2 linked regions of the Homo sapiens genome follow. The protein of the gene in region 1 interacts with the protein of each later gene in a pairwise test. Each region holds a gene or a part of one and is shown on either strand. Other genes may lie near its edges.

Region 1 (3,837 bases):
AAGGAAGGGTCAAGAATTAATGAATTAAGTTTATGCAAAGGACAGCTTCAAATCAAACCTTCATTATAAACTAGTCAAACCTGCTATTTTGTTCCTGGATTTTTATGGCCTGTTTAAGTGCCATCCAAAGAAAAACTCATAAAGTTGACATCCCTTTTCAGACTAGTATGAACCCACTTATTATACTACCATACTGTTATGAGATTCAAGTAAAAAAAAATGTAGACATTCCACAAAAGGGATAACAACTGTTTTTTTAATCAATGTATTCTCAAAGATTAAGTATGTTTCCTGGAATTAAATGTGTGTCACCTAAAATTAAAACAAACAACGCCCCCCCATTCTGCTAAATGCAATGTGGTATGCTGGATCAGATCCTGGAAAAGAAAAAGGACACTTGCAGAGAACTAGTGATTTGGTGAAAACAAATTTTGTTGAAATTCAAATAGTCTGTAGTTTAGTTAAAAATAAGGTACCAATGTTAGGCCTGCACGGTGGCTCACGCCTATAATCCCAGCACTTTGGGAGGCTGAGGAGGGTGGATCACGAGGTCAGGAGATCAAGATCATCCTGGCTAACACGGTGAAACCCCATCTCTACTAAAAATACAAAAAATTAGCCGGGCGTGGTGGCGGGCGCCTGTAGTCCCAGCTACTTGGGAGGCCGAGGCAAGAGAATGGTGTGAACCCGGGAGGCGGAGCTTGCAGTGAGCGGAGATTGTGCCACTGCACTCCAGCCTGGCTGACAGAAGGAGACTCCGTCTCAAAAAAAAAATTATTGTACCAATGTTAATTTCCTAGTTTTAACAAATGTAACATGATTATGTAAGATGCCAAAATTAGTGGAAGCAAAATTCTGTACTATCTTTGCAACTTTCCTGTAAATCTGGTACTATTTCAATATGAAAAATTGCAAAAAAAAAAACAAAAAAAAAACACTTCAGGAAAGAACCCAGCCCACAATAAACGCTACTGTGAAAGCTAAGAAATGGTATCTATAATTATTAATAGTGCTAAAATATTTAATTGGAACAAAAAACACATTAACATACCATATTTATTTTCAAAGAAGGATTGTGCAGAGACATGGGATGTATGCCAATGGGAAGAAATGTTTTTGCCTTTACAAAATCCAGGAAGTAGATTTTCTACCAGCTGATCAATCTGTCCAATTTTTAGTTCAGATAATCCAAGGTCCCTTAAGTTAAGTGAAGGCTGTAAAAGATTGGGTCAACCAGGTATGCATTAATATTATCAAGATATTTAACCTAAGGAGTACATATTATCAGTTAAAACAATCAGATTTTAAAAGTCTAACAAATATATTTCCTTTTTTTAATATTTAAAAATAAATTGATGCAAATATTTTCACAGTTCGTTTTACTGAGATCAGTCATATGAGGTTTGACATAGGTTAAAAAATTATATTCCTAATGGTATCCTTAAATAAAGAGATGACATTTCAGCATGAATGAGAAAAACTTTTTTTTTTTTTAAATCAAACCCAAACCACTACTGTCCTAAGCATTATGGTTCACAGAATCAAGTGAAATGTATGGCATTTTTTCCTTCTCTCCATACAAGGGTACTCTGATCAAGAGCTAGTCTATCAACTATTGATCAAGCATTTATAATGACAAGAGTGTAAGAGTAACTAACTGCAGGGTTACAAAGTATGTTATATAAGGTCCAGGGGATTTTCCCCAACAGTGTAGAACTGATTGGAGGATAATAGTAAGGTTCTTGAATTGGGGAAATTCCATTCAAATGATAATCCTCACCAGTCCATGGAGCTTTTAAGCCCCTAAGCAGCCATAAACAAAAGCCCACTTGACAAAGAAATGGTATGCTTGGTTACCATAGGACATCTCACTCCTCTGGCCTCATTGCTTAGATCCTTCCTTGAACTCAGAGGTTCTAAAGTTACCCATATCTTCTAATAAAGAAGAAAATTAAAGTCAAAACTGTGTGAAAATCAGGCAAAAAAGTCTAAAAATCACAAAAATGTGTGTATACCCACTTTTAAACAACAGGATAGGGATTATTTTCTTGTCCACATGAGCTGAAAGAGAGGCACTTAAAGGCAAGTAACAATTACATGTTACTCAAACCCAAAACAGCTAAGGTGGGAAGATCGTTTGAGGCCAGGAGTTTGAGACCAGCCTGAGCAACATGGTAAGACATCATCTTGATGAAAAATTTAAAAATTAGCTGGGCATGGTGGTATGCACCCGCAGCACCAGCTACTCAGGAGAAATGTTTGAGCCCAGGAGCTGGAGGTTGCAGTGAGCTATGACAGCATCACTGCACTTCAGCCTGGGCTACAAAGGGGAGACCCTGTCTCTAAAAATAAAGTTTTTTTTAAAAGAGGCATGGACACGGATTATATAGCTCTGGACTGATGTCTGGGAATACGGTACTTTTTAAATTAGCTATAACTCATATTCTTAGAATTCATTTTCTCAATACTAACATAACTATAAAATACACCTTATTTCCTAATAGTAAGGATCAAAGGCAGAGATCATGCCTTACTCATCTACGTATCCTAGCATACAACATGACAGCACATAGTAAAAGACAGTTAAAGGCATGATGAAATAAAATACTTAAAAGTACTTTTTAAGCTATTAAAAATGATCAAGGCGGCTTAGGGACGGGGGCAAACAAAAAGCCATCCAAGGGTCTGGAATATCTCAAAAAATTCAAGGAAAGAAAAAATTAAAGAGATAGGTTATGGCCAAACTGTGAAGAGCCATGTTTGAATTTAATTCTCTAAGTAACATGATTAGTTCTGTCTTATAGAAGAAAATGGAGAACTAAGGAAGATAGACTGGCCTAGCATGGTGGCTCGAGCCTGTAATCCCAACACTTTTGAGAGGCTGAGGTGGGAGGACTGCTTCAGGCCAGGAGTTCGAGATCAGCCTGGTGAAGAAAGCAAGACCCTGTCTTTACAAAAAATTTAAAAATGATAAAACAAACAAACAAAGAAACTAGACTGGATGAGAGAGAAGGCTGATGGAACAAGTGAAAGATGGCAAGAACCTGAACTAAGCCGTGACTAAGAACGATGGACAAAACAAATCATAGACAATAGGCATTTGGAGAAACCCGCAGTGTACAGGGATTGAGAGGGAGAAGGGTTCTGGACGGATGTGCCAGTTATCGGTTGTGTCCAAGCTCTTCTTCATCCTTTTTGCTGGCTCCATGAACATGGATCTGTACCCTTCGAATATTTTTCCTTTGCCAATTGAAACAATGTTAAGCTTCGTCAGGAAGTCACTGAACATACACTGTAGGAAGAGAGGTTTTGATTCCTGGTTGTGGTATGCTCATTTAGCAAGTTCCTGTCTGTAACACCCGTGGTTTCTATAGCATCTGGCTCCTGTCAATTGTGCAGTTTCACCAAACCCTGGCTCCTGGCGTGCACAATGGCCAGCAGGACCTAGCAGCTTCCCCTGGCACCACTCGTGTAACAGCTTCTCTAGTAGGACACATCCCCAGGAACAGCTTTTCCCAGTATCCTAGAGGGCAGACTTCCCAGATTTCTAGCACGTTACCCTGGCATGACATCACAGCAACTTTTCTACCATTCAGTGAGCCAAGGCCATGCCTTCGCCAACAATGTCAGGATCTCAGCCCTGGGGATGGAGAACTCTTCCTGACTCTATCTCAGCCCTAGAAGTATGAGCTGCTCCCTAAATCTGCTGGTCCTTTATTTTTTTAAGAGTTTTATTTACTTCTTAAATCCCTACCTATTCCACTTCCCTGTAAAAACAGGTGTTTTTTTTTAGATTAAACCAAAAAATGAGATTACATTTTTATATTTATTTATTTA
Region 2 (3,837 bases), on another chromosome or scaffold:
ATGAGGTGCTTTTAACCCCTGAACCACCCAGCCCTCAGGACCTGAGGGCTTATGAAATTCACACAATAACTCTTTGTTACCTAGGATTACCTAGGAGTTAACAAAAATAAACAACTGGCTTTGAATCTGGTCTCAGGGTGCATGCCCTGCTCTTCAGATACCATTTACAAGATGGGTAAGTGTCATCTCCCTCCCATCTAAAAACAGTCCCCCTTAGAGCCTTAACTCTGGCATCTTGCTCTTTGTTATTCTCTCTCCATGACCTTTTTCCTTTTCTTTTTTTTTCTTTCCACAGCAGGTTATTTTTCATTTACTTTCAAATAAAAATTAGATGTCACACTTCTTTTCTTCTTGAACCTGCTTTTTTGTGTTTAGGGTGGAATCACTGCCCACCCCCTAACCTTTTAGCCATGCATGATTCATACCATGTGTTCCTACACAGAGAAGCAAACTGTATTATTTTCTAAAACAGTATCTTTCAGAAAACATTTGTATAAATGGACAAATTTAAGTTTCATAAAATGGTCCCTACTATAAAAGCTCACTTGAACAAGTAAATGGTGGTGGCAGTGGTGGTGGTGGTGGTGGTGGTGATGATGGTGGTGGTAGTGGTGGTGGTGGTGGTGATGGTGGTGTTGGTGGTGATGGTGGTGGTGGTGGTGGTGATGGTGGTGGTGGTGGTGGTGATGGTGGTGGTGATGGCGGTGATGGTACTGGTGATGGTGGTGGTGGTAGTGATGGTGGTGGTAATGGTGGTGGTGGTGATGGTGGTGGTGGTGGTAGTGATGGTGGTGGTAATGGTGGTGGTGGTGATGGTGGTGGTGGTGGTAGTGATGGTGGTGGTAATGGTGGTGGTGGTGATGGTGGTGATGATGGTGATGGTACTGGTGGTGATGGTGATGGTGATGGTACTGGTGATGGTGGTGGTGGTAGTGATGGTGGTGGTAATGGTGGTGGTGGTGATGGTGGTGGTAATGGTGGTGGTGGTGATGGTGGTGATGATGGTGATGGTACTGGTGGTGATGGTGATGGTGATGGTACTGGTGATGGTGGTGGTGGTAGTGATGGTGGTGGTAATGGTGGTGGTGGTGATGGTGGTGGTGGTGGTAGTGATGGTGGTGGTAATGGTGGTGGTGGTGATGGTGGTGATGATGGTGATGGTACTGGTGGTGATGGTGATGGTGGTGGTGGTGGTGATGGTACTGGTGGTGATGGTACTGGTGGTGATGGTGGTGGTGGTAGTGATGGTGGTGGTAATGGTGGTGGTGGAGATGGTGGTGTTGATGGTGATGGTACTGGTGGTGATGGTACTGGTGGTGATGGTGATGGTGGTGGTGGTGGTGATGCTACTGGTGGTGATGGTACTGGTGGTGATGGTGGTGGTGGTAGTGATGGTGGTGGTAATGGTGGTGGTGGTGGTGGTGGTAGTGATGGTGGTGGTGGTGATGGTACTGGTGGTGATGGTGGTGGTGGTAGTGATGGTGGTGGTAATGGTGGTGGTGGTGATGGTGGTGGTGGTGGTAGTGGTGGTGATGGTGGTGATGGTACTGGTGGTGATGGTGGTGGTGGTAGTGATGGTGGTGGTTGTGGTGGTGGTGGTGATGGTGGCAGTGGTGGTTGTGGTGGTGGTGGTGATGGTGGTGGTGGTGGTGGTGATAGTAGAGCCTTCACATTTTAACTACAATGATGTGCATTTTTCTCTAAAACCAGGAGAAAAATTAGTCAAAATTATGTGTGGGCATGAATATACAACATATACTATGTTCAAATACACATGTAAATACATAAGGAATATGCATTGGAATAACTCTGGAATAACCCTAAACTGACTCCTTTTGATTCTGGCCTTGGCTAAAGATGTGTGCCATGGACTATACCCAAAGTCCTAAATGAGGCCACAGGAGTGAATGTCCAGTAATAAAATGGGCTCCAGAGGCACAGGCATCTTCAATCACTAGCCACGGAGCAAGACAAGACCCTGGGGAGAAGACCCACAGGGATGAGCTACTATCAGCTCCCAGCCTCCAGTGAGGAAAGAAAAAGGGGAGGGAAGAAGTCCCTCTGGGGCTGAGTGGAGTGGGGAGCGGCTGCCAAGTGAGTAATGGAATAATACATATGACAATCTATTTTGGAAGTAACTCCTTCAGTACTTAAAAAGTAAGGGCAATTTCCAGAAATTCTCATCTCTATACACATGGACATTTGTAGAAGAAATAAGGCTCAACTTACAAATACCCTGCGGGGCATATTCTGCACTCATCCCAGGCGTGGGGATTAGAGCTCCATGTGCAGAACGAGGGGAGGAGAGGCCCCTCCAGTGCAGAAGTTTATCTGTGAAAGAAACCCAAAATCAAGCACTACAGCTACAAACAACGTGCATCATAAACCACAGGATATCACATTTCAATTCCATTAAAATAGATTACAACATCATTACAACAGCCTTGCAGATAGTTAACAGGCCCAAGGCCTGAAACAAAAGAAGAGTGGTGAGTTATTTCCCAGAGTTTCTGTTTTGTTTTCAATTTCGGTCTTTTTGACAAAAGTGAAAGGGTTTGTTTTAGGAAAGGGGAGAGGTGGTCTTTGGTTCATTTGCTTATTTATTTGTTGTTGTTTGATTATTGTCTTGTGGAAAGAAGATGTGTAAGCAGCAAGGGGAAAACTGGTAATATTGTGGGTAGCCTGGAAACATGGGGGGATTTTATCTGCAAGGCTGGTTTACATGCATACATTAACTTTACTTTATAGACAAACCCAAGCAAAAAGCAAAATGCTGATAGGAAATGAGTAGATTTGTGAATCGTTTTTTATGGGACAGAGTCCCACTTTGCTTTCTCTGTCCCTCTGCCCCCCTCTTCCCATGCTATATTTATGATAGCGCCTTCAGTGATAGGGGAAACCTGGGCATTTCTGGACTGAGCTGGGCCATACTCTAGAATCCTGTCAACTGGAAACCTTACACAGATGTGGCTTCTCACAATACAAAGCAATGGAAGATAAAGATTAGACTTCTGGGGTCCAAATAACTTTGACCATTAAATGACAAGGAAAGAACCAGCATTCCAATAATGCCAGCACCCAGAAACCCTGACCCATCTTCACCATTTTACTGCACTTTGTTGTACTCTGGTGAAGACAAGTGACTTCTCACACTAATAAAATGAATCTAATAGTCAATGAAACATTTGTAGCACTGAGATTTTTTTGAGAAGAGGAAAATTTGGTTTGTGCAATCTGGGGATTTTACGGTTTATGTGGTAAGTGCCTAGCTTTTCCAAGTCCTCCTCTAGCTAACTAACCATGTAGCTGTCCATCTTGAGACAGACTGGAGGATAGATGGTGCAGGAGACGCTCTGTGTGTTCTAGAGGTTTGGAGTTCATGATGATTGGGGAGGGCGGGAGACAAGAAAAACAGACTTTGATGGTGAACAAACAGTATGTTTTCCATTAGCTTAATATTAAGAGCACTTAGAAGTGTTGTTGTTGTACTCTAGGATAGCAGGTCTCAAGTGTAAAATACATCCTGTTCTCCTTATATAGAGCACACTGCCAAGCACAGCCAAGGCAGTTGGGACAAGATTTCCTTTCGCAAGGAGCCTGGTGGGTAACGATGGTGTGCTGCTGAGAAGGCTCTTACACAGACAGCATAGGTCTGCTGTTACCAGGCCTGCAGAGGGAAGCCCTGGTGGAAGCACCACCTAGCCTGAGAACATCTACAGAGACATTTCATCCTCTCTGACCCAAAACAAAATAAACACCACAAAGTGAACCAACACAAGCAGGAAGACCGGACTTAACAAACAAGTATGTCTACATTTGACTGTTTACGTCAAGTGA

Evidence for each region.
Region 2: the proteins of YME1L1 (region 1) and BCL11A interact in a two-hybrid assay, tested with the Homo sapiens proteins (one large-scale study listed by BioGRID and IntAct).

What each region holds. Positions count from the first base shown.
Region 1 is NC_000010.11:27,144,377-27,148,213, forward strand, and holds part of YME1L1 (ATP-dependent zinc metalloprotease YME1L1), read right to left. Parts: intron 3,293-3,837; coding exon of another isoform or gene 3,122-3,292; intron 1,215-3,121; coding exon 1,052-1,214; intron 1-1,051. UniProt on the Homo sapiens protein: ATP-dependent metalloprotease that catalyzes the degradation of folded and unfolded proteins with a suitable degron sequence in the mitochondrial intermembrane region.
Region 2 is NC_000002.12:60,466,503-60,470,339, forward strand, and holds part of BCL11A (BCL11 transcription factor A), read right to left. Parts: intron 2,332-3,837; coding exon 2,230-2,331; intron 1-2,229. UniProt on the Homo sapiens protein: Transcription factor. Associated with the BAF SWI/SNF chromatin remodeling complex. Binds to the 5'-TGACCA-3' sequence motif in regulatory regions of target genes, including a distal promoter of the HBG1 hemoglobin subunit gamma-1 gene.